Linked DNA regions of Homo sapiens. The protein of the gene in region 1 purifies or fractionates together with the protein of each later gene. This does not show direct contact. Each region holds a gene or a part of one and is shown in the gene's direction. Other genes may lie near its edges. The genes, in order: DDX55, SNX3, C1orf174, PXK, RRP36, DHX36 and WDR89.

Evidence for each region.
Region 2: the proteins of DDX55 (region 1) and SNX3 purify together in Homo sapiens (affinity purification with mass spectrometry; one large-scale study listed by BioGRID and IntAct). This does not show direct contact.
Region 3: the proteins of DDX55 (region 1) and C1orf174 purify together in Homo sapiens (co-immunoprecipitation; one large-scale study listed by IntAct). This does not show direct contact.
Region 4: the proteins of DDX55 (region 1) and PXK purify together in Homo sapiens (affinity purification with mass spectrometry; one large-scale study listed by BioGRID and IntAct). This does not show direct contact.
Region 5: the proteins of DDX55 (region 1) and RRP36 purify together in Homo sapiens (affinity purification with mass spectrometry; one large-scale study listed by BioGRID and IntAct). This does not show direct contact.
Region 6: the proteins of DDX55 (region 1) and DHX36 purify together in Homo sapiens (affinity purification with mass spectrometry; one large-scale study listed by BioGRID and IntAct). This does not show direct contact.
Region 7: the proteins of DDX55 (region 1) and WDR89 purify together in Homo sapiens (affinity purification with mass spectrometry; one large-scale study listed by BioGRID and IntAct). This does not show direct contact.

What each region holds. Positions count from the first base shown.
Region 1 is NC_000012.12:123,615,599-123,619,098, forward strand, and holds part of DDX55 (ATP-dependent RNA helicase DDX55), read left to right. Parts: intron 1-786; exon of another isoform or gene 787-912; coding exon 913-1,005; exon of another isoform or gene 1,006-1,049; intron 1,050-1,111; exon of another isoform or gene 1,112-1,242; intron 1,243-1,713; exon of another isoform or gene 1,714-2,159; coding exon 2,160-2,274; intron 2,275-2,998; coding exon of another isoform or gene 2,999-3,070; coding exon 3,071-3,239; intron 3,240-3,500. UniProt on the Homo sapiens protein: Probable ATP-binding RNA helicase. Has ATPase activity and is involved in the maturation of precursor large subunit rRNAs.
Region 2 is NC_000006.12:108,210,722-108,213,381, reverse strand, and holds the end of SNX3 (sorting nexin-3), read left to right. Parts: intron 1-1,127; coding exon 1,128-1,233; 3' UTR 1,234-2,160; downstream 2,161-2,660. UniProt on the Homo sapiens protein: Phosphoinositide-binding protein required for multivesicular body formation. Specifically binds phosphatidylinositol 3-phosphate (PtdIns(P3)).
Region 3 is NC_000001.11:3,893,773-3,897,272, reverse strand, and holds part of C1orf174 (UPF0688 protein C1orf174), read left to right. Parts: exon of another isoform or gene 1-1,978; intron 1,979-3,500.
Region 4 is NC_000003.12:58,405,892-58,409,391, forward strand, and holds part of PXK (PX domain-containing protein kinase-like protein), read left to right. Parts: intron 1-3,032; coding exon 3,033-3,110; intron 3,111-3,500. UniProt on the Homo sapiens protein: Binds to and modulates brain Na,K-ATPase subunits ATP1B1 and ATP1B3 and may thereby participate in the regulation of electrical excitability and synaptic transmission. May not display kinase activity.
Region 5 is NC_000006.12:43,024,623-43,027,360, forward strand, and holds part of RRP36 (ribosomal RNA processing protein 36 homolog), read left to right. Parts: intron 1-362; coding exon 363-510; intron 511-640; coding exon 641-707; intron 708-1,414; coding exon 1,415-1,519; intron 1,520-2,507; exon of another isoform or gene 2,508-2,555; coding exon 2,556-2,630; intron 2,631-2,737; coding exon 2,738-2,738. UniProt on the Homo sapiens protein: Involved in the early processing steps of the pre-rRNA in the maturation pathway leading to the 18S rRNA.
Region 6 is NC_000003.12:154,303,988-154,307,487, reverse strand, and holds part of DHX36 (ATP-dependent DNA/RNA helicase DHX36), read left to right. Parts: intron 1-1,192; coding exon 1,193-1,272; intron 1,273-2,319; coding exon 2,320-2,394; intron 2,395-2,515; coding exon 2,516-2,682; intron 2,683-3,500.
Region 7 is NC_000014.9:63,596,872-63,600,371, reverse strand, and holds the end of WDR89 (WD repeat-containing protein 89), read left to right. Parts: intron 1-398; coding exon of another isoform or gene 399-429; coding exon 430-1,593; 3' UTR 1,594-3,333; downstream 3,334-3,500.

The sequences.
Region 1 (3,500 bases):
CCCAGATTGCCCTGTGCCCGGTCCAGGGAAAGGTTGTGATGACTGTCAAGCAGCAAGGAGCAAATCCATTTGTCCTGTCTGGGTAGAAACTGTCTGTGGCTTAAGGCCGGACACGGTGGCTCACGCCTGTAATCCCAGCACTTTGGGAGGCCGAGGCGGGTGGATCACGAGGTCAGGAGATCAAGACCATCCTGGCTAACGTGGTGAAACCCTGTCTCTACTAAAAACAAAAAATTAGTCGGGCATGGTGGCTGGCGCCTGTAGTCCCAGCTACTCCAGAGGCTGAGGCAGGAGAATGGTGTGAACCCAGGAGGCGGAGCTTGCAGTGAGCCGAGACTGCGCCAGTGCACTCCAGCCTGGGTGACAGAGTGAGACTCCATCTCAAAAACAAACAAACAAAGAAACAAAAAAACAAAAAACTGTCTGTGGCTTATTAGGCTTGTGACTATACAGCAGGCAACTTGTGTCTACCAATGACCATAACTTGTATCTGCTTGTGCTGACAAATAATAGTTTTCTGTTTTTCTTAATCATTGAACATCTGACTATATTAAAAGTCTTCTTTTGGACAAAGTGATATACCTGACTGCTAGGCCTCAGTTATGGAGTGAATTGTCCGTTGTTTTTCAGATGGCTACAAAGGATTAGACCCATACAGTTTTGGTTTTCAAATGGCAGTGCTGTAATTTTTAAAATCCCTTTGCTGTCTCTCACCTCCCTCCAATTTTTATTGGAATTTATGAAGTCCCAGAGATTTGTAGAAAGAAGAAAAAATCAAAATATTACCTTAAACATTTGCTTCTGTGAGAAGCTCCAGCACCTGTGTGTCACTGTCATCGAGATCAGTAGGCTGTTTGATGGTGATGAAGATGGTGGCCTCCTTACTCAGAATGCTTTTTTCTCATTTCCTAGTGGGATTTTAGTGTGCACTGATGTGATGGCCCGGGGAATTGATATTCCTGAAGTCAACTGGGTTTTGCAGTATGACCCTCCCAGCAATGCAAGGTATGGTACGAGGCTGCCACCCACTCTCTGTTGAGGAATTTAGCCTAATAAAGGAGGAATCCCGAAGAAGATAAACAGATAATGATGTTCACTGAAACATTTTATAGCAAGCCTCCAGCGTGCTTGGGTCTGCAGTGACCCCGTGGATTCCTACAGGGCTTGCCAGAACAGTTTTGAAATGGTTTGAGGCCTTGCCGTGCTCCATGTAGAGCAAGGTTATAGAAATTTCAGACAATGAGAGAAAACAAAAAACAACAACATTATTTGAGGCTGGGCGCGGTGGCTCACGCCTGTAATTCCAGCACTTTGGGGAGGCCGAGGCAGGTGAATCGTTTGAGCCCAGGAATTCACCAGCTTGGGCAACAGGACAAAACCCTGTCTCTACAAAAAATATATATACAGATTAGCCAGGCGTGTGTTCCTGTAGTCCCAGCTACTTGAGAGGCTGAGGCAGGAGAATCGCTTGAGCGCAGGAGGCAGAGGTGGCAATGGATTGTGCCACTTCACTCCAGCCTGGGCAACAGTGTGAGACTCTGTCTCAAAACAAAAACCCGTTGTTTTAAGTAGCAAAAATAGGCAAATGGATGAATAACCCATTCATGGTGAAATCGTGATACTGTATTGGTAGCAATTAAAAGTACTTTCAAATATTATCAGTTCTTGCAGAAACACACAATAGAATGTCTAAATGAAAAAAGCAATACATACCACCACATGTGAAAATTACAATTACTTTCTTCAAAGTCAGCATATATTCCTAATACATGCTTCCACGCATAGGAAAATGCCTATAAACCCCCAAGTGTTGATGATTACTCCTGAGGTTATTGGTCATTTTCATTTTATTCTTTGTATTTTTCATTGTTTCCCAGATTTTCCACTGGGGACTATGTCCCACCTGTATGATCAGAGAGAAAGATACAAGTTTTACTTAAGAGTTCACATTAAATGTTTCTTACAGAATCGTATCTGTTTGCAGTGTTGGTTTAATTGCCAGTTCTATTTCTCACACTAGTAAGTGGCCGAGTCCACACTGAGCTGTGGAGGCTAGAGGCTCCCCAGAGCGTTTTAGCTGCAGCAGCCATGTGGCTGGAGCCTGAGCTCTGTTCAGCTGTCATCACCTGGGTACCCATTTCCACCCTGTGTTCTCACAGTGCCTTCGTGCATCGCTGCGGTCGCACAGCTCGCATTGGCCACGGGGGCAGCGCTCTGGTGTTCCTCCTGCCCATGGAAGAGTCATACATCAATTTCCTTGCAATTAACCAAAAAGTAAGCTGCCGTCCGTTTTCAGATAGAATGCCTAGTGACGGGGTAGCTGGAAAAGTTCTCCAGCATGTGGTCAGCAATTGAAATTACGAATTGCAAACTCACTGGGGCTGGGCTGGTGGTGGCAGTGGGGGGCCCTGGTGGGGTTTTTTTTTTTTTTTTTTGAGACGGAGTTTCACTCTTGTTGCCCAGGCTGGAGTGCAATGGCACTATCTCGGTTCACCGCAACCTCCACCTCCCGGGTTCAATGGATTCTCCTGCCTCAGCCTCCCAAGTAGCTGGGATTACAGGCATGCGCCACCCCAGCTAATTTTGTATTTTTAGTAGAGATGGGGTTTCTCCATGTTGGTCAGGCTGGTCTTGAACTCCCGACCTCAGGTGATCCGCCCACCTCGGCCTCCCAAAGTGCTGGGATGACAGGCGTGAGCCACCGTGCCCGGCCACCCTGGTGGGCTTTAAGGCTGTGGAGGCACCTCGGTCATGGAGTGACCAAGTCTCCTGTGTGGTAGCATGCCCTGCTGGGACCCAGGCAAGGGTTACTTCTTGTGAATAGAGACCCAGTGTTGCCATACTTTGCTACCAGATTAGGATTGTCATGTGAAATCTGATTTTTAAATTTTCTTTTAAAAATTTAACATACTTTACAGAGCATGTGAAATATTTGGGTTGGAGTTGGGCTTCAGACCTCAACAGTTGAAAAGGAATTGTTTCGCTTTTGTTTTTCTTGGTTGTGATGGGGAGCCCTGGGGATATGATGCCAGCCAGGGAAGGTGAGAATGTGGTATGTGTGTGTGTGTAGTGCCCCCTGCAGGAGATGAAGCCCCAGAGAAACACAGCGGACCTTCTGCCAAAACTCAAGTCCATGGCCCTGGCTGACAGAGCTGTGTTTGAAAAGGGCATGAAAGCTTTTGTGTCATATGTCCAAGCTTATGCAAAGCATGAATGCAACCTGATTTTCAGATTAAAGGGTAAGTTGGACTTCTTCATGTGATAATGTCTCCATCTTAACTATGTGGTGGTCTTACAAGTATGAGATTGCTTTGTCTCATAAAAGGAAGTGTTCCCAGGTTTTGAGTAGACACAGAATAAACTGGCCACTGGCTGCTGAGTATTCCTTTTAACTTTGTAAAAATGTAATTTTTTTAATTTTTGAGACAGAGTCGCGCTTTGTCACCCAGCCTGGAGCGCAGTGGCGCGATCTCGGCTCACTGTAAGCTCTGCCTCCCAGG
Region 2 (2,660 bases), on another chromosome or scaffold:
CCACGCCTGGCCTATATTAGATATTTTTAAATTCTGAAATAATAGTCCGGTTGCCCAGTGTGGTTTTAAGCAGGCAAAAACAAACAAAATACCTGGATATTTGTGCCTGTTTTTTTAGTATTTTGGGCTTTTATTGAACTTCATTGTATTTCTAACTTCAATCCTGTATCTTCTCCTCTTTAAAATAGACTCTGGCCTGGTACAGTGGATCATGTCTGTAATCCCAATATTTTGGGAGGCCGAGGTGGGCAGATCACTTGAGGTCAGGAGTTCCAAGGCCAGCCTGGCCAACATGGCGAAACCCTGTCTCTACTAAAAATACAAAAATTAGTGGGGCGTGGTGGTGTTTACCTGTAGTCCCAGCTACTCAGGAGGCTGTGGCAGGAGAATCGCTTGAACCTGGGAGACAGAGGTTGCAGTGAGCCAAGATCACACCACTGCACTCTAGCCTGGGTGATAGAGCAACACTTTTGTCTCAAAAAAAAAAAAAAAAAAAAAAGATTCTTAGGATCAATTGACATGCTTCACTTTTAACATTAAAATTAATTTAAGTTTCTTATGAATACACCAGCTATGATGTAAAGCTAATTGGGTACATGTGCCACAAGCAGTGAAAAATTTGTGATTAATGTTTTCTTAATTAGAGTTGTGAACCAAACAAAAGAACATATACCATTAGTTGATAGTGCATAGCTTTATGGACAGTCCAGAATAATACTTATTGGTAAACTGTACATGATTCTGAGCCGGGCGCAGTGGCTCACGCCTGTAATCCCAGCACTTTGGGAGGCTGAGGTGAGCAGATCACTTGAGGTCAGGGATTTGAGACTAGCCTGGCCAACATGGTGAAACCCCGTCTCTAGTAAAAATATAAAAATTAGCTGGGCATGATGGCACACGCCTGTAGTCCCAGCTACTCAGGGGGCTGAGGCACGAAATCACTTGAACCCAGGAGACGGAGGTTGCCATGAGCCAAGATCAGCCACTGCACTCCAGCCTGTGCAACAGAGCAAGACTCCATCTCAAAAAAAAAAAAATTATACATGCTTCTCAACTTTAAAATATGTGTTTTGAACTCCCCCACCTTGTATAAAATATTGGACTAAATTTATATTTTTTATTCTCAGGGTCGCTGGTCATCCTCTGGCACAGAACGAACGTTGTCTTCACATGTTTTTACAAGATGAAATAATAGATAAAAGCTATACTCCATCTAAAATAAGACATGCCTGAAATTTGGCAAGAAGGGGCAAAAACGTGACTATTAATGATTGATAAGCACCAGTGAAGAAGTTCTAACTTTTAGCATGCTGCACAGAAACTGGTATAACATGCCTTCAGTATACTAACACTCATATGCTCAGTTTTGTTTTGTTTTGGCAGTTGACAAGAAGTTAATTTGCTTTAGTAAAAATCCCTCATTCCAGCCTTTCTATATAAATAGCTCTTTCTTGCTGTTTTAATGTGGTGCACACTATAGCCTCACAAACCTGTTATTCCAGTGTAATCTGCAGTGTCGTAACTAAAGTTACTGGCTTGGTCTTATTTGCACAGTTTTTGCGTCTTGTTTGCTTCTTGCATCTGATTAACTAGAATATTTCTCTTTCCCCCTTTTAATTTGTGATGTCACTTGACCCCATTTATGTGTAGGAGCACTACACCATTGGTTTCCAATACTGCACACATAAGATACATACTTGTGTGCAGAAAGTATCTTCCTCCAGGCTTGTAATACCCTTCACATGGAAGATTAATGAGGGAAATCTTTATATTCTGTATAAAAACAAAAGCAAATTTATATACTAAAATCATTTGTCTAAAAATTTAAGTTGTTTTCAAATAAAAATTAAAATGCATTTCTGATATGCACTGATTGTGTTGCCTCCAGCTTTTTTTGCTCTCTATGAGTGACTACTTAAGTCACTTGTTGAGAGGGATTATTTACTAATTATATACTTCTCATTCCTGTAACTCCATTCCCTTTAAACAGTGGTGATATCAAATATACTTCCATCCATTGAATGGGGTATTTTTAACAACAACAAAAGTGATATACTAAAAAATGTATTGCTTAAGGCTTATTGAATCATTTTGAAGCACTTTGTGTATTTGAAAACTGCTTTATAATCTCATTTATTAAAAGGACTTTCAAAGATAAAATACCATTTCTCCTATTTTTCAGAAGTTTTTTCCTAGTCAACTGAGTGACTTGTTTAAACAAACTTAGCAAGGGTGTAATAACTCTTCTTAGTCAGCAGGTTTGTGCTTTCTCTTTAATTTGGTTTGGGATAGTAGCACACTTTATCCTCTTTAAGAGAAGGGCACAGTCTTCTAGCCTGACCTGCAAAAATGATAAGATACCAGAAAACACATGACTTCTTGCTGCCTAACTTGTGTTGTGTTCAGACCTTTCAGCCAGAATGTGGTCTCTAGTTTGTACAACTTGCGGTGGTTTGGGGACCCATTGTGACTTGGAGTTAAATCCCAAAGTAAAGAAATTTTGTCCTCCTACAGCAGATGCGTCTCCTCTGAAGATGGATCAGTCCATTTAAAAGGAAACAAGCTTGGGTCTTGGCCAAACTAGGATGTCCACCAAGCACATAGAAGTCATAGGAAGAAGTCAGAGTTGCCCCATAAGGCCTTTTGTTGCTCAAACAGTA
Region 3 (3,500 bases), on another chromosome or scaffold:
ATCTTGATATTGTTTATCATGGCTACCTTGGTCCTTTATATATGTATAAATCCAACATCTGGTCACTCTCACAGACAGCTTCTGTGGCCTGCTTTTATTCCAGTGTATGAGCCTACTTTTCTTTTTCTTTGAGTGCTTCATAATTTTTTGTTGGAATTATGCCTTCATAATTTTTTTGACATTTTAGATAATACATTTTAGCAATTCTGGGTACTGTCCCCAACCCTGGGGCTTGTCATTGTTAATATGCTTATTTGTTTAGCAACTGGGTAGATTGTTTTGATAAAGTATATTTCCCCTGCCACAGTGTTCAGCCTGTGATGTTGCTGGTGGGGGGTGGCACCCAGCCACTCTGGATGACAGTGGTTTTAGTGAGGTCCTTTTCCTCTTTCCCTGACCACATCCAGCTGTTGAACTTCGCTAATGCCAGGTTATTGTGCTGTTCTCAGCAACAGCCTGGGCATAAGTTGCTCTACAAACTAATCCAATCAAATTGTGGCTTCTTCGAAGGGATACTTTCTAAGGTCAGTGTTTGGTTAGTTTGTTCTGTGTCCAAGAGGCCTCCTCCCAGCCGTGTTAGTCTCTGGTTCTCTTCTGCGAACTGGTTGGCCTACAATTTGGCCTATTGCTTGATTCTCCACTGCCTCCACCCCCTTCGTCACAGCATCCACGGTACTTGAACAGCTCCCTTAGGCCGGAACTTCTCCACATTCCATGGCAGGGAATTTGGTGCCTTTGGGCAGGTGTAAGAGCTGTCTGTTTAGTTGCCTGCCTCTCATCCCAGGCAGAGCCTCTGAGCCAGGGCCTGCAGCTGAGGACAGTAATGGGCTCCTCTCTGAATAGGGGCTGGGGGAGCTAGCAGCAGCCTGAGATCCTCCAAATGTGTCTTCCCCAGCCTGGAACCACCTCATATCTAGGACGGGGTTGATGGGGCCCCAGTCTTCTCCGTTCACTGGGCGGAGCCTCTTGCAGAGGCTTAAACCGTACTGGTAGAATGGAGCCAAGGTGAAGCCTTCATTCTACAAATAGGGTCTGAGCAGAAAGGAGGGCCCCTCTTCTCAATCCTACTCACTCAGGACCTGGTCTCAGTCACAGGTGGGATGAGAGCAGAAAGGGAAGCACTGCTATCCTGCCTCTCCTGGGAAGACACCCCGCTGCCTGGGAGCTGGGGAGGTGGCCCTGTGTTCTTGGCTGCAGCAGGATGGAGCTCAAGTGCCACAGACTCTCCGTGTCCTTACCAAATGTATGTAGGTGTTCTGGAGCAAGTGTTTCTTCATTTGCTGGGTGCCCATAGGACCATTTCCAAAGGCTCTCTAAATGGCTGTTTTGGGACTGCTCATTACTCTCTGAGAAGGTCAGTGAAGCTCCTCGAGCCATCATGTTGAAGTCAGTCTCGGCCAGCCCTTTTGGAGAAACCATGTTTGTGCTTCTGACATACCAGTTATTAAACAATCTACTGGAATGAGGAGAATCTCAATGATGAGAAAGTCTTTCCTTTTTTGGACTGTGGGAGCAGTCCAAGCTGCCCAGCTGCAGAGCAGGAATCTGCAAGTGAGACTGTGACCAATTCTTGACATTTTGGAGTTGACACCTTGGAGGTGGTTAATCCATGACGAAACTGAAGCTAAGCCGATCTCATGTTTTGACTCCTGTCAATCCGGAGAGGACAGCAAATGGCCTGCTCAGGTGTCTGTTAACAGCCAGCGCTTCCAGGCCCACCAGATCCTCAGGTGTCTGTTAACAGCCAGCGCTTCCAGCCCAGCAGATCATCTGGCTTTTCTCTGCAGAAGGGGCCAAAAGGTCCACCTGATGAACCTGTTGCACGCGAAAAGTTCAGAACCACTGCTGCCAAGATGCTGACAGAAGCCTTGAGAAGCACCTGCTGCGGGAAAAGACGTGCAGGCGTAGAACACAGAGCGGGTGGCAGCTTCTTCAGTTCAATCCCCACCTCAGGCAGTTGTTGGGGGTCATATCTAGGGTGAGCTGTGGTGATGGAATAGAGATTTGGAAGCCAGGCATCACTCGTATAACCTCATAAGCTCCTTACCCAAGTTGTCCTCATCTGAAATGGGTGTGCCACTCCTTTAAAGCTGTTCAGGCACCGAGCTGGGCTCCCCACACAGCATACTCCAGCACAGAGCAGCAAAGCGCCCGGAGGAGGGCTCACAGCAGGGAGGAGAGGTGGGGCAGTGGCTTTCTAGGTCAGAGATGTCTTTTCCCTACGAGGCACGTGATGGCGTTTTAGGGAGATGGGCTTGTTTAAGACCCAGTGGGAGGATTTTGATGAGAGATGTTTATGGCAACTCTTAGCAAGTTCTGTAACCTCTGTTGCCTCAGTCCCCTTGGTGTAACTGTGACCATGACGTCTGCCGGGGCTCTCAGCAAAGCCCTGCCCTTGTGAGAGGACGGAGGCGCAGCCCCCGGTGTGCTGTGGTAGCAGGCACTTCACCCAGCCTGTGGGCAACTGGCGTGTCCTGTGTACAGCAGGCGGGCGTCCTGGCCTCCGGTGGGCTGCTGCCTGCTCTTCTCCCTCCTGTTTCAGACACACACTCTGACTGCCACAGTATCACAGGACCTTGGAGCTGCCACCCCACAGGGTTTCTGGAGCTGTCTTGGGCTACGGGGTGCATGGCTGAGACAGATTATTTCTTTTTTTTTTTTTTTTTGAGACGGAGTCTTGCTCTGTCACCCAGGCTGGAGTGCGGTGGCGCAATCTCGGCTCACTGCAAGCTCCGCCTCCTGGGTTCACGCCATTCTCCTGCCTCAGCCTCCCAAGTAGCTGGGACTACAGGCGCCCACCACCACGCCCGGCTAATTTTTTGTATTTTTAGTAGAGACGGGGTTTCACTGTGTTAGCCGGGATGGTCTCGATCTCCTGACCTTGTGATCCACCTGCCTCAGCCTCCCAAAGTGCTGGGATTACAGCCGTGAGCCACCGCGCCCAGCCGAGACAGATTATTTCTGTGTTTTATTTTTTTGTTTTTTTCCTTTTTTTATTTCTCTTATCTGCTGTTGGGCAGGGCACTCTTCATCCGTCCCCTTCTGGGTTCCAGTTCTAGGGCCTGTTGGCAGCAGCTCTTGGGCCTTTCCCGGCCATGTCAACCTGCATTGCTCCTGTTTGTTGCTTCTACTACTCACACTCATTCCTTTCGAGTTTTCTAAGTGCAGTGTGGTATTGTGGACTGGATTCTGGAACAGAAAAACGGTTCATGGAGAAACCGATAAAATACAAATAAAATCTATAGTTTAGTGAAGAGTACCGTAATGTCACTAATTTCTTAATGTTGACAATGTCCTGTAGTTGTTTAACATTAGTGGAAGCTGAGTGAAGGCTACATGGCAACTCCCTGTACTATTTTATTATTATTATTTTTTCAGAGACACTGTCTCACTCTGTCACCCAGGTGGAGTGCAGTGGTGCAGTCATAGCTCACTACAGCCTCAGACTCCTGGGATCAAGTGATCCTCTCACCTCAGCCTCCCACATAGCTGGGACTACA
Region 4 (3,500 bases), on another chromosome or scaffold:
CACAAAGAAGATATCTCTGAAGTTATAATAACTGGTTGAATTTATGTATGTTCCAATAAGCTTTATATAATTTTTTAAATATTTTTTTTTCTTTTGAGACGGAGTCTCGCTCTTGTCACCCAGGCTGGAGTACAATGGCATGATCTCGGCTCACTGCAACCTCCGCCTCCTGGGTTCAAGCAATTCTGCTTCAGCCTCCTGAGCAGCTGGGATTACAAGCATGCGCCACCACGCCTGGCTAATTTTTGTATTTTTAGTAGAGATGGGGTTTCATTATGTTGGTCAGGCTGGTCTCGACCTCAGGTGAACCACTCACCTCGGCCTCCCAAAGTGCTGGGATTACAGGTGTGAGCCACTGCACCCGGCCAATTTTTTTAATTTTTAATTTTAATTTTTTTTTTTTTGAAGTAGGCGATTTTTTGTTGCCAGGCTGGAGTGCAGTGGTGCAATGACGGGGCTCAGTGCAGCCTCAAACTCCTGAGCTCAGGTAATCCTCCTGCCTCAGCCTGTTGAGTAGCTGGGACAACAGGCGCGTACCACCACACCCTGCTAATTTTTTAATTTTTTTGTAGAGACAGAGTCTTACTGTTGCCCAGGCTAGTCTTGAACTCTTGGCCCCAAGTGGCCTCCCAAAGTGCTGGGATTACAGGTGTGAGCCACTGTGCCTGACCTAATTTTTAAATTTTTAATTGTGATAAAAAATACAATATAAAATTTACTCTCTGAACCATTTTTAAGTGTACAGTTCAGTGGTGTTAACTATCTTCACATTATTGTATAACAGGTCTCTAGAGCTTACAACCTGAAACTCTATACCCATAGAATAATGACTCCCCATTTCTCCCTCCCCACAGCTCCGGGCAATCACTATTCTACTTTGTTTCTGTGATCTTGACTACTCTAGAAACCTTATATAAGTATTTGTCCTTTTGTGGATCATTTATTTCACTTAGCATAATGTCCTCAAGGTTCATCTATATTGTAACATGTAACAAGATTTCCTTCTATTTTTAAGGTTGAGTAATATTCCATTGTATGTATATGCCACACTTTTTTTATCCATTCATCTGTTGATGAACATTTAGGCTGCTTTTACCTCTTGTCTGTCATGAATAATGCTGCAGTGAACATGGGTGTGCAAATATCTTTTTGAGATCCTGCTTTTGATTCTTTTGGATGTATACCCAGAAGTGGAATTCCTCATATGGTAGTTCCATTTTGTAGTTTTTTGAGTCACCTCCATACTGTTTTCCATAGCAGCTGTACTACTCTACATTTCCACCAGCAGTGTACAAGGGCTTCAGTTTCTCCACATTCTCACCAACATTTATTTTATTATTTTAATAGTGGCTATCCTAATGGCTGTGAGGTGATGTCTCATTGTGGTTTTGATTTACATTTCTCTAATGACTAAAGACATTGAGTGTCTTTTCATATGTTTTTTGGCCATTTGTATATTTTCTTTAGAGAAATGTCTATGTCTTTTGCCTCTTTTTAATTGGGTTACTTATATTTTGTTGTTGAGTTGTTGGAGTTCCTTTATATATTCTGGATATTAACCCCTTATCAGACCTATGATTTGCAAATATTGTGTCCCATTTCTTGAGTTGTCTTTTACTCCGTTTTTCTTTGTTGCACCAATGTTTTATTTATTTATTTATTTATTTATTTTTCTTTTTTTCTTTTGGAGACAGGGGCTCGTTCTGTTGCTTAGGCTGGAGTGCAGCAGCACAATCTCAGCTCACTGCAACCTCCGCCCTCCCAGGTTCAAGTGATCTTCCTGCCTCAGCCTCCCAAGTAGATTACAGGCGTGCACCACCACACCTGGCTAATTTTTGTATCTTTAGTAGAGACGGGGTTTTGCCATGTTGGCCAGGCTGGTCTTGAACTTCTGACCTCAAGTGATCCACCCACCTCAGCCTCCCAAAGTATTGGGATTACAGGCGTGAGCCACCTTGCCCGGCTGCACCAAAGTTTTAAATTTTGATGAAGTTTAATTTTTTTTCTTTTATTGCCTGTGCTTTTGGTGTCATATCCAAGAAATCACTGCCAAATCCAGTGTCAAGAAGCTTTTCCCCTGTGTCTTTTCTTTTAGGAGTTTTATAGTTTTAGGTCTTATGTTTAGGTTTTGAATCCATTTTGAGTTAATTTTTGTTTATGGTGTAAGGTAAGGGTCCAACTTCACTCTTTTGTATGTGGATATCCAATTTTCCCAGCACTGTTATTGAATACACTGTCCTTTCCCCCATTGTATGTTCTTGGAACCCTTGTCAAAGATTATTTGACCATATCCACAAGCATTTATTTCTGGGCTCTCTCTTCTTCTTTTCCATTGGTCTGTGTATCTGCCTGCATGTCAGTACCACACTGTTTTAATTACTGTAGCTATGTAATAGGTTTCAAAATCAGGAAATGTGAGGCCTTCAACTTTATTTTTCTTTTTCAGATTGTTTTGGCAATTTACAGCCCTTGAGGATTACTTGCATTACTTGAAACATATCATGTTTATTTATGTTTTAGTTTTATGTGTTCATTGCTAAAAAATGCTAGAGAAGTGAGTGTGTTAGGGATACCAAAAGTGGCTGGGGTAGGATTTGAATGGACAGCTTTAACTGATTTTATTCCAAATGACTCTTTTTTTTTTTTTTTGAGATGGAGTCTCGCTCTGTCACCCAGGCTGGAGTGCAGTGGCGTGATCTCGGCTCTCTGCAAGCTCCGCCTCCCGGGTTCACGCCATTCTCCTGCCTCAGCCTCCTGAGTAGCTGGGACTACAGGCGCCCACCACCACGCCCGGCTAATTTTTTGTATTTTTAGTAGAGATGGGATTTCACCGTGTTAGCCAGGATGGTCTCCATCTCCTGACCGCGTGATCCGCCCGCCTTGGCCTCTCAAAGTCCTGGGATTACAGGCATGAGCCACCGCGCCCGGCCGAAATGACTCTTGATAACCACCTGCTCCTTCATTTACTCCAGGACTTGGAAGTATCTCCAGCCACCTTTTTCAATAGATGATGTACTTTTCTCTCCTTTCAGATCCCTACAAAGTTAAAAGAGGCATTGAGAATTGCCAAAGAATGTATAGAGAAGAGACTAATTGAGGAACAGAAACAGGTAAATTGATAACGGTTCCTCTTTGCCTTTTAGTGTCCCCATCCTCTGCCGTGGTTTTTATAGTGATTGACCTTTGACTGTTCCCTCTGCAAATATTTTAAGCATACTTACTCTCAGCCAGCCTTTAGGCTAAATGCTTCCCTGCAGAGCTGAATACTTGACAGTCCTGCCCTCAGTCCTGCCTAGTCTATGTGGGAAACAAACATGTCCAGGAAGGGCAGTCTGGGTTTCTGATCAGAGCATGCCGGCCGGTGATAGTTGCGGGCATGCATGGTCCATGCTGTCTCACCACATTCTTCTTCTGTAAAAGAGGGAAAGGCAGGAAGGCATTAGGGGCATGAGAAAGGACCTCTTCCTTTGGCATACTCCTCTACCTGGCATCCAGACCCG
Region 5 (2,738 bases), on another chromosome or scaffold:
CTGAGCATGTGGACCAGGACACTGGCAATGGTAACTGAGCAAGGGAGGCAGATGCCCTTCTGGGGAAACCTGTGAATGAGTAAAAGAGAGAGTAAAAGAATGAGTAAAAGAGAAAAAGAAGGGACTATGGTTTGGTGCACCTTTGACCTTACATATACACCTTCCTTAGCAAGATGAGGCCCCAGGTTGCTGAAATAGTTGGAGAGTTTAACACTATCACAGCCTCTGCTGCCTAGGACTTCTAATAATGATTGGTCTGATGGGGTATTAGGATTAGCTAGCTAAGGAATGGGGATGGGAAGATGTCTTTTCTGCAGTGGGACATGCTGAGCTGAGTTGTATGTCCCTCCCCACTTCCACAGGCACATCTAACATGTCATTTGAGGAGCTGTTGGAATTGCAGAGCCAAGTGGGGACTAAGACGTACAAACAATTGGTAGCTGGAAATAGTCCTAAGAAACAAGCTTCTAGACCACCTATCCAAAATGCATGTGTTGCAGATAAGCACAGGTAAGCAAGGCTTGCCCTAGAAGTTGGAAGATAACTGGGACCTTGAATAGGTATGTTGTCTTGGGTGACAGGTGGGAAGCCTTTGACCAACACTGGAGTCCTCTTGACTTGGCTTTTAATTTCTCCATAGGCCTCTGGAAATGTCAGCCAAGATCCGAGTACCATTTTTACGTCAGGTTGTTCCCATTAGTAAAAAGGTAAGGAAGAAGGCCAGGCACTGTGGCTCACGCCTGTAATCCCAGCACTTTGGGAGCCCGAGGTGGGCGATCACCTGAGATCAGGAGTTCCAAGACCAGCATGGCCAACATGGTGAAACCCTGTCTCTACTAAAAATACAAAAATTAGCTGGGCATGGTGGTGTGTGCCTGTAGTCCCAGCTGCTTGGAAAACTGAGGCACAAGAATCGCTTGAACCTGGGAGGTGAAGGTTGCAGTGAGCCAGGATCATGCCACTGCCCTACAGCCTGTGGGACAGAGTAAGACTCTGTCTCAAAAAAAAAAAAAAAAAAAAAAATAGAGGCCGGGCGCAGTGGCTCATGTCTGTAATCCCAGCACTTTGGAAGGCCAAGGTGGGCGAATCACGAGGTCAGGAGATTGAGACCATCCTAGCTAACACAGTGAAACCCCGTCTCTACTAAAAATACAAAAAAAAATAGCCGGGCGTGGTGGCGGGTGCCTGTAGTCCTAGCTACTCAGGAGGCTGAGGCAGGAGAATGGTGTGAACTTGGGAGGCACAGCTTGCAGTGAGCCGAGATTGCACCACTGCACTCCAGCCTGGGCGACAGAGCGAGACTGTGTCTCAAAAAGCAAAAAAAAAGAAAGATGAGGAAGAGACAGGAAGCACTTTTTCTCAGTGAAAGGAGATTGAACAGTTGTGTTTTATATTCTCTCTCTTCTCTCCAAAGGTAGCCCGGGACCCTCGCTTTGATGATCTGTCAGGGGAATATAATCCTGAGGTGTTTGACAAAACATACCAATTCTTGAATGACATCCGAGCGAAAGAGAAAGAGGTATACAGCTTGAGACTGGTTTATGGGGAATTTTGTGGGGTGGAAAATGAGGGCACAGGTTAGAGAGTTGGGCAGGGGGAGTGGGAAGTATAGTGGTGGGCAGATTTAACTCTCTCCAATTCAGTTCATATTCAAATCCTGGCTCATCAGTTTACTAGCTGTGTGATTATTGGCATGTTACTTAATCTCTCTATGCTTTAGTTTTCTAATCATAAAAAAATAAAATAATAATTACTGTCTTGGAGGCCGGGTGTGGTGGCTCACGCCTGTAAGTAATCCCAGCACTTGGGGAGACTGAGGTGAGCACATCATTTGAGGCCAGCAGTTCCAAGACCAGCCTGGCCAACATGGTGAAACCCCATCTCTACTAAAAATAGAAAAATTAGCCAAGTGTGGTGTTGCATGCCTATAGTCCCAGCTACTCAAGAGGCTGAGGCATGGGAATTGCTGGTGCCCTGGAGACAAAGGTTGCAGTGAGACAAGATCGTGTCACTGCACTCCAACCTGGGCAGCAGGGCAAGACTGTCTCCAAACAAACAGTTACTGTCTTGGTGTTATCAAGTTAATATATGTGAACTTCTGGCCGGGTGCGGTGGCTCATGCCTGTTATCCCACCACTTTGGGAGGCCGAGGCAGGTGGATCACGAGGTCAGGAGATTGGGACCATCCTGGCCAACATGGTGAAATTAGTCTCTACTAAAATACAAAAGGAGGAGATCAAGATCATCCTGGCCAACATGGTGAAATTTAGTCTCTACTAAAATAAAAAAAAAAATTAGCCGGGCGTGGTGGCACGTGCCTGTAGTCCCAGCTACTTGGGAGGCTGAGGCAGGGGAATTGCTTGAACCCAGGAGGCGGAGGTTGCAGTGAGCCAAGATCACACCACTGCACTCAAGCCTGTGACAGAGCAAGACTGCATCTCAAAAAAAAATGTGTGTGTGTGTATGTGTGTGAACTTCTTAGGATAATGCTTTACATAAAATTTCAGCTAACATTTGCAGAATGCTAACCATGATACTCATTTTCCAATGTGGAGCTTGTGAAAAAACAGTTGAAGAAGCACCTTTCAGGAGAGGAGCATGAGAAACTGCAGCAACTGCTTCAGCGAATGGTGAGTGGGTAATAATTGTGGTGGGTAATGAAAGCAATTAAAGGTGGGAGATATTCACAGATCTGAACAGATCCCTCCCGTTCACCCATCTCATCTTTGCTCCTCAGG
Region 6 (3,500 bases), on another chromosome or scaffold:
ATATCTTCTTTTGAAAAATGTCTGTTCTTGTCTTTTGCCCTCCTTTTAAGGGGATGATTTGTCTTTTATTGTTGTTGTTTGAGTTTCTTGTATATACTGGGTATTTGTCCACTGCTGGATGAATAGTTTGCACATATTTTCTTCCGTTCTGGAAATTATCTGTTTACTCTGTTGATTATTTCTTTTGTTGTGTAGAAACTTCTTAGTTAATTCCCATTTGTCTATTTTTATTTTTGTCGCCTGTGCTTTTGAGGTCTTAGTCATAAATTCTTTGCCTAGACCAATGTCCAAAGGAGTTTTTCCCTAGGTTTTCTTCTAGTAGTTTCAGTTTCAGGTAGTCTTCACCCTTTTATGGGGACTATATTCCAGGAAATTGCATAAAATTACAGAATGGTGAAAAATAAACCACTTTTGTCATAACACACTTTTGTAGCTAGACTTAAATATTTTCACTAATATATAGCAGTTACTGTATATGCTGATAGTAGGAAGAAATGCTAAGTAGGTAATTTTTCTCTTCTTTTTTCCACCATCTGTTGGAATTTGAGTAGACAGGTTAATGTGGTCTGTCAGTGTATACTAGATATACTTATTGGAAAGTTTTACTTGTAAAGTATTATTTCTTACAAATTATGCCATTTTCTATTTCTAATACCTTATTATCACTGTTCTGTCACAGAATAACTGTTGGTTACTTTTAGTTGTACAAATCAGTATTAGATTATAACATTTCATCTTTCCAAATCTTATTTTTGGCAGTCATAACTTTCAAAACATGACCAAGAACTAGAAATTCAACACCAGTCCCTACCACAAACAAAAACACAAGGGAAGAGTATCAATATGTAATTACTTTCAAATTACACATAACTTCTACAAGTTTAGATCTTGATTTACAACTCTTAGAAAAGACCAGAAAAGTATAAATTAATGAGAGGATGCTATAGAAAGGCACTTTGAAACTAGTGATGAGAGAACTTGGCCTTAAAAGACTTTATAAGAGGAAATGAAAAATAAACAGCTCTTAAGAGAGGCACACACTGTTTTAGATACCTCAGATTTTAATATCTATTTTTTTAACTCATTTAGAAATCTGAAGAACAATTTTTCAACAGTCCTAGATTTTCATGGACATTCAGGATATTTGTTCTAAAGGAAATTATATTCTCTTTATGTTTTATTTGAATTAAAGGTTGCGGAAAGAGTAGCTGCAGAAAGGGCAGAATCTTGTGGCAGTGGTAATAGTACTGGATATCAAATTCGTCTCCAGAGGTAAGAAATGTTCACTTCTTATATACAGGCAGATTTTAGTGAAACTTTGAAGCTGGAGATTCAAAAGAAAGGATATTTTCCCCATTTTTATGATGGTTATTACTATTACAATTACCATTTAAAGTAACTGCAGCGTAGATGACTTGCTGCCACAAATTTATCTTTTAACCCCACATCAGACTTGTATTGCCTTTTTTAAATGATGCTTTTATATTTGGAATGATTAGAAAAATAAACATTTTTCCTGGACATAGATTAGTAGACCATTACTCTCTCTGAAAAGATTGTGTAGACCTTTCAGTACCACCTCCATATACTTCCGACTGACTTTTTATTGATTTTGATATCTTAACCCCCTATCCAACTCCACTGTGCAGTACATAGTTGGTCCTTTTCTGGAGCTTAGGACTCCATTTGCCTTTTTATGTTTTAATTTACTTAATGTTTTTTAGAGATAGGTTCTCACTCTGTTGCTCTGGCTGAAGTGCAGTGGTGCAGTCAACTCACTGCAGCCGAAGACTCCTGTGCTCAAGCAGTCCTCCCACCTCAGCCTCTCAAGTAGCTGGGCCTACCGGCGGACACCACCACAACTGGCTAATTTTTTTACTTTTCGAGCCTGGATCTCGCTGTGTTGCCCAGGCTGGTCTTGAGCTCCTGGGCTCAAGCAACCCTCCCATCTTGGCCTCAAAGTGTTGGGATTACAAGCCTGAGCCACCATGCCTGACACATTTGCCTTTTCAAATGAGCTTTCCAATTACGAACCAAATATTTAGGCCCCATAAGTAATTCAGTTGTTGTCTGAATGTGAATGGTCGTATCTTTTAAAAGAAATTAACATTATATCAATGACAACAAAGATAATGTATAATGAACTTGAAGTATTTCCCATTACCCCATTGTGGTAGGTGTTCTTATAAGTAAAAAATTAAGTGTGAAGATTTTCATTAAAACTGAAAGCATTTCTAAAATTGAAGATATAAACCTTTGTGGTAGTTAATTATTAGAAGAGAAAACCAAGGCTTATTAATTCATGTCTTTCATTCACAGTCGGTTGCCAAGGAAACAGGGTTCTATCTTATACTGTACAACAGGAATCATCCTTCAGTGGCTCCAGTCAGACCCGTGAGTATGTTTCAATTAAGGAAATATAAGTGTTATCAAAAGATGTAATTATTAAATTGGATTTTACTAGTTGTTAAAGAAAAATGGTTTTAAAATTTTGTACTTCACACTTCTGCCTTAGGTATTTGTCCAGTGTTAGTCATATCGTACTTGATGAAATCCATGAAAGAAATCTGCAGTCAGATGTTTTAATGACTGTTGTTAAAGACCTTCTCAATTTTCGATCTGACTTGAAAGTAATATTGATGAGTGCAACATTGAATGCAGAAAAGTTTTCAGAATATTTTGGTGAGTAAAATGTATAGTTATTACATTAGAAAAGGTACTAGAAAAACAATTAAAAAAATTAATATGGTACTAGGTAAAGAGTAGTCAAAATGAATGTTTAGCTGTTAATTTTATTTTAATATTATTCTACCCTCCAGTTTCATGGATTAGACAATTGGGTCTATTTTTAAATGGTGGCATCATCTCTCATAGTGAGGACAGGTAGCTTCTTGTTGCTACCACCACACAATTAAGATGGCATCATTGAAGTCAAACCACAGATTTGCATAATTTTATAAACTTCTTTCTGTTGTTTTTCTGTGGCTTTTATCACAGGTTAGGGTGGCAGTTTGCTGCTAATACTGCTAGTGACCACTTATGGAACACCTTCAATGTTCCAGGTAGTATATTTGCCACTTTGTCTTCCTTAGTCTTTATAACACTTTATGAGGTAGTTGCTATTATCATTCACATTTTTACAGATGAGAAAGCAGCCTCAGAGCAGTTAAGTAGGTTTCCCAAGCTGAAGCTAGATTGGACCAGCTGCAAAAGCACATTCTTTTAAAATTAATCCTCACTGTCTTTCCTGCTTATACTTGTGAAGGAAGGAGGGGGAAAGGGAGGGAATTACAATGTAATATATTTATGTTTAATAAATGTTCTTGTCATCAGCTTTTTAAAAGTCCTTTAAAATACATCCCAGTTAATACTGAAAACCATGTAAGATTAGTTGGGGTAGGTGTTATTATTGTTATTTTTAAATGAGACTTCTAGAACTAACATTGAGTACTTTGCTCAAATGTGTGCACATCATGGGTAGAGCAGTGATACCTACTTAG
Region 7 (3,500 bases), on another chromosome or scaffold:
GGCATAGGCCACCATGCCCTGCTAATTTATTTTTTGAAGAGACGGCGGGGGGGTCTCCCCATGTTGCTCAGGCTGGTCTCTAATGCCTGGCCTCAAGCAGTCCTCCTACCTCAGCCTCCCAAAGTGCTGAGATTACAGGTGTGAGCCACCACTCCTGGTAGTGAATTCAGTATTAAAGAGTGATTGAATTAGAAGGCAACTGAGTTTTAGTTACATCATAGGAAGGAAATGATTATAGTATTAGAATACATTTCTGTTGATTGATTGATTCATGCCAGCCCTCAGAGGAAAATGTTCTTGATTTAATTGCAATTTTAGAGAAACTTCAAGTTAAATTTTTTTATGTGTCTCCCTTGTTAAGCATTAATTTTTATTTTTATTATTATTATTTTTTACAGAGTTTTACTACCCTTGGATGCTGCTGTTGACATGGAAAAGATTGAGGAACAATTTGCTAATCTGCACATTGTTAAATGTTCCTTAGGAACCAAAGAGCCCACTTACCTTCTTGGTATAGACACATCAAAGACTGTCCAAGCAGGAAAGGAAAACTTGGTTGCTGTTTTATGTTCTAATGGATCAATCAGAATATATGATAAAGAAAGGTTAAATGTACTACGAGAATTTAGTGGATATCCTGGACTTCTTAATGGAGTCAGATTTGCAAATTCCTGTGACAGTGTATATTCAGCATGTACTGATGGCACTGTGAAATGCTGGGATGCTCGAGTAGCCAGAGAAAAACCTGTTCAGCTCTTCAAGGGTTACCCTTCCAATATTTTTATCAGTTTTGATATTAATTGTAATGATCATATTATTTGTGCTGGTACAGAAAAAGTTGATGATGATGCATTGTTGGTGTTTTGGGATGCAAGGATGAATTCTCAGAATTTATCTACAACTAAAGACTCACTTGGTGCATATTCAGAGACACATAGTGATGATGTCACTCAAGTACGTTTCCATCCCAGCAATCCCAACATGGTAGTCTCAGGTTCATCTGATGGCCTGGTAAATGTATTTGATATTAATATTGATAATGAGGAGGATGCACTGGTTACAACCTGTAACTCAATTTCATCAGTAAGCTGTATTGGTTGGTCTGGGAAAGGTTATAAACAGATTTACTGCATGACACATGATGAAGGATTTTATTGGTGGGATCTTAATCATCTGGACACTGATGAACCAGTTACACGTTTGAACATCCAGGATGTCAGAGAAGTAGTTAACATGAAAGAAGATGCTTTGGACTATTTGATTGGTGGCCTATATCATGAAAAGACAGACACATTGCATGTTATTGGAGGAACAAACAAAGGAAGGATTCATTTGATGAACTGCAGCATGTCAGGACTGACCCATGTGACTAGCCTTCAGGGAGGGCATGCTGCTACAGTCCGTTCTTTCTGTTGGAATGTGCAAGATGATTCTTTGTTGACTGGAGGAGAAGATGCACAGTTGTTACTTTGGAAACCTGGAGCTATAGAGAAGACCTTTACAAAGAAAGAGAGTATGAAAATAGCATCCTCTGTGCACCAACGAGTACGAGTTCATAGTAATGATTCTTATAAAAGAAGGAAAAAGCAGTGATAATGCATTTGGCACTTTGTTTGGTAGGTTTTATAGTTTCAAATAGTCCTTCTTGTTTACTACCCATGGTAGACATGTTTAAAGCTTTATGTAAAAACAAGCCAGTTAGCAAACAGTCCTGGAAAAATATGGTGAGAATGGTTTAATTCCGGTCTTCACATATTCTAAAAAATTTTAAAGCCTCTAAGTATAAAATCAGTGAGTTGAAAGTAAAATTTCTTATTTAAAGAACCCATCTGTTAATGTAGTAAATGTTGGCTTTAAAGAAATAGCTCCGATAAGGACTTTTTAGAAGGAAATACTTGGTAAAACTTAATAAAACAGGTGGTTGGCTGCATTTTTTAAGCCCAGTTTTTTACATTTTAAATTGTCTTTATTGTGTATAAAACCAGATTAGACTATATTCTTCATCTGAGGAGCATCTATATGTTTAATACACCTAATGTATTATGCTGGAGTATTTAAATGTAAGTATTTTAATGAGTAAATAGAATTAACCTTTTTTACAAATGAAATGATAGGCATCTATGTAAAGTGAGAAAAATATGTTTCGTAAATATTTGCATCTTTAATATTGTTAGTAAGTAGTAAACAGGTGTTTTGCTGATTGAAAGGAAGTTATCTTGGTAAATTGAGACTCAAAGTGAAATACAAAAATGAAAATATTTATAATAGGACTCGACTTGGAGAAATTGCTATTCTTCCTGTTGTCCAAACCATAAATCTGAGGATAACCTGGGCTTTTCTCTTTCCTCTTCTCCTAACCAGTTTTTCACCAAGTCCTGTGCCATTTCACCTCCTAACGTCTGTCAGCTATCCTTTTGCCTTTACCTCACCACTATTACCCTAGAGAAGACTTTCATTATTTCTCATCTGGATTACCAGCTCGATCTCTAATCTGCTTCAGTTCATCCTTCTTGCTACTTCTAGGCTAAACATCAAAAACAGATCTGGTAGGGGCGGGGAAATGAGGGGGAAGAAACAAAAACGTGATGGTGCCTCATGCTGCTTAAAATCTTCAGTACATTGATGTTTTGATGGCGGACTACATAAGCGTTAAAAATTGTGTTTTTCAGAATCTTTAAAATATAAGACAGTGCTATCTAGTGAATAAAAAAATTAGTTTGAAAGATATCTGGAGAAATCGCATTCATAAAACAATTGGAAGTGAAACTATTAAAACAATAGGGCTTTTTAAAATTAAAAATATTTAAAATTCAAAAGTAATTAATAGTGTTGGAAGATGTAGGTGAGAAAATATTCCTGAAAGTAGAACTGAAAGAGACAAAGAGAAAAGATGAAAGCCACAGAAGATAAATACAGGGGTCAAAACCAGACTAACAGTTTTAGAAAGTGAAAAAAGTTAAAAAAGAAATGGGGGCAGTGGGTTATTAGAAATAACATAAATGGCTGGTATGGTTTGTCTGTGTCCTCACCCAAATTTCATCTCGAATTGTAATCCCCATAATCCCCATGTGTCTAGGGAGAGACCTGGTGGGAGGTGATTGGATCATGGGGGTGGTTTCCCCTACGATGTTCTCCTGATAGTGGGTGAGTTCTCACAAGATCTGATGGTTTTATAAAGGGCTCTGCCCCTTTAACTCCTCACTCTTTCTCCTGAAGCCTTGTGAAGAAGGTGCTTTGCTTCCCCTTTGCGTTCCCCCATGATTGTAAGTTTCTTGAGGCCTCCCTGGCCATGCTGAACTCTTCAGTCAATTAAACACTTTCCTTTATAAATTACCCAGTCTTGGGCAGTTATTTATAGAGTGTGAAAATGGACTAATATAGTGGCTATTCCAGAACTTCAATCTTTAGATTGAAAGGCACAGCAGAGTGTCAAGTGTAATGAATGAAAAAGATCCACATCAAGGCATAGCACTGTGAAGTTTCAGAGTAAATAGAAAATC